Linked DNA regions of Homo sapiens: region 1 is linked to region 2. Evidence: fine-mapped QTL for protein levels in blood plasma. Region 2 holds a variant in brackets. A gene starts in the other region. All regions are shown on one strand. Distances are between the middles of the regions.

Region 1 (2,901 bases), 71 Mb before region 2:
ATGACTCTTAACGAGCATGCTGCCTTCAAGCATCTGTTTAACAAAGCACATCTTGCACCGCCCTTAATCCATTTAACCCTGAGTGGACACAGCACATGTTTCAGAGAGCACAGGGTTGGGGATAAGGTCACAGATCAACAGGATCCCAAGGCAGAAGAATTTTTCTTAGTACAGAACAAAATGAAAAGTCTCCCATGTCTACTTCTATCCACACAGACCCGGCAACCATCCGATTTCTCAATTTTTTCCCCACCCTTCCCGCCTTTCTATTCCACAAAACTGCCATTGTCATCATGGCCCATCCCCAATGAGCCGCTAGGCACACCTCCCAGACGGGGTCGTGGCCGGGCAGAGGGGCTCCTCACTTCCCAGTAGGGGCGGCCGGGCAGAAGCGCCCCCCACCTCCCGGATGGGGCGGCTGGCCGGGCAGAGGGGTCCTCACTTCCCAGTAGGGGCGGCCGGGCAGAGGCGCCCCTCACCTCCCGGATGGGGCGGCCGGCCGGGCGGGGGGCTGACCCCCCCACCTCCCTCCCGGACAGGGCGGCTGGCCGGAAGTCTTAATGCAGACAGCATTATCAGTGTGTTCAAAAGACACGTAGACACGTTTTGCCTATAGACAAATGGGCAAAAGGAAACCCAGCTTTCTCAAATGAAGCACAAGTGGGCCTTAATTATGTGAAAAGGTGTTCAAGTTCATCATTAAACAGGGAAAGGAAAAGTTAAAATCATGCTGAGATATCTTTCATAGAAATGGCAAAAAGCAGGAAGTGCCACGTGTGGGCAGAGAGGAAGCACAGGAACTCTCACAAATGGCAGGTGTCATCGTAGACCAACACAACCACTTTGGAGAGCAGTTTGACTTTCCCCAGTTAAACTGAACATGTGAGCGGCCGGGCGTGGTGGCTCATGCCTGTAATCCCAGCAGTTTGGGAGGCCGAGGCGGGCGGATTGCCTGAGCTCAGGAGTTCAAGACCAGCCAGGGCAACACGGTAAAACCCCGTCTCTACTAAAATACAAAAAATTAGCTGGGCGTGATGGTGTGTGCCTGTAATCCCAGCTACTTGTGAGGCCGAGGCAGGAGAATTGCTTGAACCAGGGAGCAGGAGGTTGCAGTGAGCCGAGATCGCACCACTGCACCCCAGCCTGGGCGACAGAGTCCCCCTCCCCCACCAAAAAAACAACAAGTGAGCATCCTGCAACCTAGCAATGCCATTGTTGAACAAGTTCAAAGATGTTCTTAGCCTTATTAGTCCCAAAAGGAAGAAAAAAATGGAGGATTTGAGAATGTTCTTAGCTTTATTGCTAAGCGGAGAAAGAAAAACAACACATACCAAAAAAAAAAAAAAAAAAAAAAAAAAAAAAAAAAAAAACCTGGGTGGGAAATTAGGGCCATGTGGCATGAAAAGGAAGACCCAGGGGAAGTGTGGCCCATCTAGGGGTGTGGCTACTGCAGTGATCCAGCTGTATCACTGAACTTCCCTGGCATCATAGAGTTATATTGTGCCATTTATGGAAAAACTCTCCCCACTGCTCTTGGCTTTGACAGTAGGAATCAGGTTATATATGGTCTCTCGGTTTGAAGATATTTGTCATTAAAAACCAGAACAAGGGCTCTGAGATAGGGTCCTTTCCTGACCTACTCTGGTAAAGTCTTTATCCTCAGGATGCAAGGATACCACCCTCTTCCTGTGGAAAGTGTCGAATCACATGCAGAGCTCTAAGTCTTTCAGTTACTTTGGAGTGCAGAACCATTTCAGGTAAGGCCAAATATTTTAAACATTAGTATAGGAAATTAGAGGGCTCTTTAGTCTGTGTGTGCATGAGAAGTAAAATTGCACGAGAAGCAATTTATGTAAAATTTCGCTTAGGAAACATTGTTTTGGCAGGTTAGTAGTATGGTGTGCATTTCCCAGAAAATTCAGTGCCGTGAGTATTACCTTTAGTTAAGCATCTTAGAAATAGTAGCTCTTTATGGCTAAGTCAGAAATACTACCCTCAAATTCTATGTGACCCTAGTTATACTGTTGAGCCTTTCTGTGCCTCTGTGCCTTCATCCTTGAATCGGGGATAATATACTTACCTCCTAAGGTTATTGTAAGGATTAAATGCATGTAGTATAAATAAAGAGCTGAGAACAATGCATGGCGTAAAGTGATAGGTATTATTATATGCTTTTGTTGGCTGTTGATTGAAGGTGTTCGCTGTTTTGGGGGTGTCCTTTAATAGAGTAACTTGGTACTGTGGAAATAGCATGATTGTGAGCAAAAGAATCAGATGGTGGTGGCTGCAGACTTTGCTGTTCCCTTCTTGACTGTTGGTTATAGCCAATGCAGGGTAAGTTATAAAGTCAAGAGCAGAGCCGTTTTCACAATGGACATTGCTTTGTGATGTCTGTGAGCTTGAATGTGAGAATGATTATTTTAATTCTCTATGTAAGGACTTTAAAGTATTGGCTATTCGGTAGCTTGAAAACTCTGTAATCTCAATGCTTTAAACTGAGAGTGGAAAATCAATAAAGCAAAAGCATGAGGCCACGCAGTGTAGAATGAGTGTCTTTTCACCACGTAGGGAAATCTGTAGTCCTAAGAAAAGAGGGAGTGAGAATTCTGGCGAAAGGATTGTGCCTCTGCACAAAGTGCAGGATCCCAGGGTTCAGTACAGGCGCGAACGCTCCTGTGTGTTGACCACACTCCCACGGTTGCTTTTTCAGACATGCTGAGGGGGACTCTACTGTGCGCGGTGCTCGGGCTTCTGCGCGCCCAGCCCTTCCCCTGTCCGCCAGCTTGCAAGTGTGTCTTCCGGGACGCCGCGCAGTGCTCGGGGGGCGACGTGGCGCGCATCTCCGCGCTAGGCCTGCCCACCAACCTCACGCACATCCTGCTCTTCGGAATGGGCCGCGGC
Region 2 (2,909 bases):
GGGGGCCTTGAACTCCTGGACTCAAGCGACCAGGAAGGCCAGGTCCCAAACATCCACTAAAACTTTAGAGTGACCTTAAACTCCTTCCCTTAAACCAGAGCAGACCACATTTCAGCACTGATCCCACAGGACATGAGCAGTTTCCTCAGACAGCAGGGATTCTGAAGTGCCAGGCTATTACCCTTTCCGACTGCCTCTCTGCTACAAAACAGGGCTTAAGATGCATCTGAAGAGCACAGAACCAAAGCTGCCTGGAACCATGTGTCAGGCTGATCTCAGCTTGGCACAGCGGGCACAGGGTCCATGTGGCGACAGGCAGCCCAGCTCCAATCCATGCTTAGCTGACGCCTAGACAGGCCGTGAAGCCAGAAGGCCAACATTCCTTCTGGGCCACCAGAACCTCCCCAGCACCAAGCCTACCGGACAAGATGCAGACACAGGACATTTGGCCATGAGGCTCCAAAACTGCCCCACAGCCCCCTCCTGACATTCCTGTCTGACAGATGGACTCACACACACCCCAGTACGCGAACCCTGGGCTTAAGTTCTGCCATCAGTCCTGGCAGGAGAAAAGGAGCTGTTTCGAGGCCAGCCTGCAGCGCGAGCCCGCCGAATCTGCCCTCAGAAGATAAGAGGCACCTCTCCTCAGGACCTGCCACCTCAGTGCGAACACCATCAGTGGCATGAAGGAAGGAATATGACACTTGTCAGGGGCATTGTTTCCATTGTGGGGATTCAGAAAGAGGAGAACAGAAGCAGGAACAACGCTCAGGGGGAAATGCACCGGGTGGAAAACAGGAGGCTGCAGATGGCGCAGAGGAAGGAGCTCAGCTCTGGGAAGAACAAGGCTGAGACCGAGGTCTGCATCTCCCCATAACTCCCACTGGCTGGGTGATCTTGGGCAAGTGGCCTGGGCTCTCCAAGCCTCGGCTTCCCTATCTGTGCAGTGGGGATAGGTGCCCTGCAGGTGTTAGATAGAGCCGGGGAACATTCAGTGCCTGCAGAGACATCTTAGTCCAATGCCAGGATTTGGGGGGGTGCTTCCCAGTCCATGGTGGGGGAAACACTTCCACTGAGGGAAGAGGATGTCGCTGCACTCCCCAGGAGGGAAAATAAGGGGGGACACCTGCAGCCTTTCACTCATTCTTCGCTCAGTGACTTCAGTCTGACCCCCACTGGGCCACATTCATCTATCAAGAACTTTATTTACTATCTGTCTCCACAGTGTGGCCTCTCTCTTCCTGTTTC[G/A]CCTGTTTGCAGCCTGCAGCAATAACACCCTGAAACAGAGGATAAGTCGGCCAGTTGTCCCTGTGGGCAGGGCCAGTGGTGCTGGGTGGAGAAGTTATTGGTTGGGGAGAGGTGATGCAGGAGGAGTAGGAAACCACAGGCCAAGCCAGTTTCCAATTTAACTTTACCAAAAATAGGGCTGGCCCTGTGCTTCCTGAGTTTATCTTCCAGCTGATTCCACTGGGAGGCAGGGGGAGAGGTAAGACTAATTATCATTCTCAAACCTCAAAAGTCAGAGTAGTCAGCCTTTTTATTTTCTTATTAATTCAGTGAGCAAACATTTCCTGAATAAGCGGTAGATCCTGGGGAGCCAGGTTCCTTGTCACCACCAAAGGTTCTCACTGCCTTTGGGCCCATTCACCCAACATGTGACCAAAGGGTCACAGAGTCCTAACAGACGTCCCAGTTAGGGAACTGCTGTGTATCCCAGGAATCAGCTGAATTATGATGCCATGGAGACTTGATTAGACTAGTGTGCTAAAAGCACAAGTTTGTTTCATTTTGTAAAAAATCATACACACGTGCATAATCAAAAAAAGGGTCCCGAGGTTCCTTGGGACCTAGGAGTGCAACCGATCTGACCCTCCACCAAAAGTTGAACTTAACCTCCGAGTTTTCTCCTCCCTCCCCTACCACCAATAAGCTTTGTGACTCTGTGAGGTACCTAATTTCCCCTGCCCCAGCTTTCTCTTCTGTAAAGATGATAACTGTGCTCACCTCTCTGTCGTGAAGGATGGGATGGGCACACTGCCACACAGCCTGGGTGCATGGCGGGAGAGGGCACAGCACACGGGCGCAAACTGCCCGTGCACACTTCTAAATGACTAATGGCATCACACTGAGACCTGCCTGGTTACACCCGGATGCCGTCTTGTGGCACGCACTGCATATTGATATACACTCCATTTTACAGCTTCATTTAACCAATGTGTTGAGTCCTGAAGGGCTTTAAGATATACCAAAGGAGGCCCATCCTCTAGGGGCTGTGTGGACAGAATAATTCCTAAAGCAATTCACAGCTGGGTAGTTAGTAATATTCCTCCAAGAAGAAACAAAAAGGGGTGAAACCAACTAATGAACATTAATAAAGAGAAGGAGCGAGGGTTAAAGTAGCTACCATTCAGGGCAGAGCTGGATCTACAGCAAGTGAGACACCAGGGCCTCATCCCAAAGGTAAGCACAGCCCTGGGGCCAGCGAGGAGGCCTGGGGAGGAGGCTGGGGCTGGAGGACACCCAGCAATCAAAACAGGGCTTGGGGGGCCGGGCACGGTGGTTCACACCTGTAATTCCAGCACTTTGGGAGGCCGAGGTGGGTGGATCACCTGAGGTCAGGAGTTTGAGACCAGCCTGGGCAACATGGTGAAGCCCCATCTCTACTAAAAATATACAAAAATTAGCCAGGCCTCATGGCGGGCACCTATAGTCCCAGCTACTCGGGAAGCTGAGGCAGGAGAATCATTTGAACCATTTGAACCCGGGGGGCGGAGGTCGCAGTGAGCTGAGATGGTACCACCACACTCCAGCCTGGGCAACAGAGCAAGGCTCTGTCTCAAAACCAAAAAAAAAAAAAAAAAAAAAAAAAAGAATAGGGCTGGGGAAAGGCTGCTGTCATGGCGAATAAG

Which allele goes with the higher level. Alleles are on the strand shown, and positions count from the first base shown. The strength of an association depends on the size of the effect and on how common the allele is.
With allele A in place of G in region 2, the plasma level of the protein whose gene starts at base 1,729 in region 1 is lower (moderate association).

What was found. PIP is the posterior inclusion probability: the model's chance that the variant is causal. Protein levels are from antibody-based Olink assays in UK Biobank. Linkage for the fine-mapping came from a reference panel and not from the study's own genotypes, which makes the PIPs less certain.
Region 1: it holds the start of GP5, and the variant in region 2 is fine-mapped to the plasma level of the GP5 protein (UK Biobank, PIP 0.92).

The regions. Positions count from the first base shown.
Region 1 is chr3:194,398,094-194,400,994 of GRCh38, reverse strand. GP5 (glycoprotein V platelet) reads left to right here and starts at 1,729. Exons shown (of 2, transcript NM_004488.2): 1 at 1,729-1,757; 2 at 2,711-2,901. The coding sequence starts at 2,713. RefSeq lists enhancers at 1-345, 346-899.
Region 2 is chr3:123,112,496-123,115,404 of GRCh38, reverse strand. All of the region lies in intron 7 of PDIA5 (protein disulfide isomerase family A member 5), which reads right to left. Among named protein-coding and RNA genes, the nearest start is that of PDIA5, 47 kb to the right of the region's middle. The variant G/A (reference allele first, on the strand shown) is at 1,249.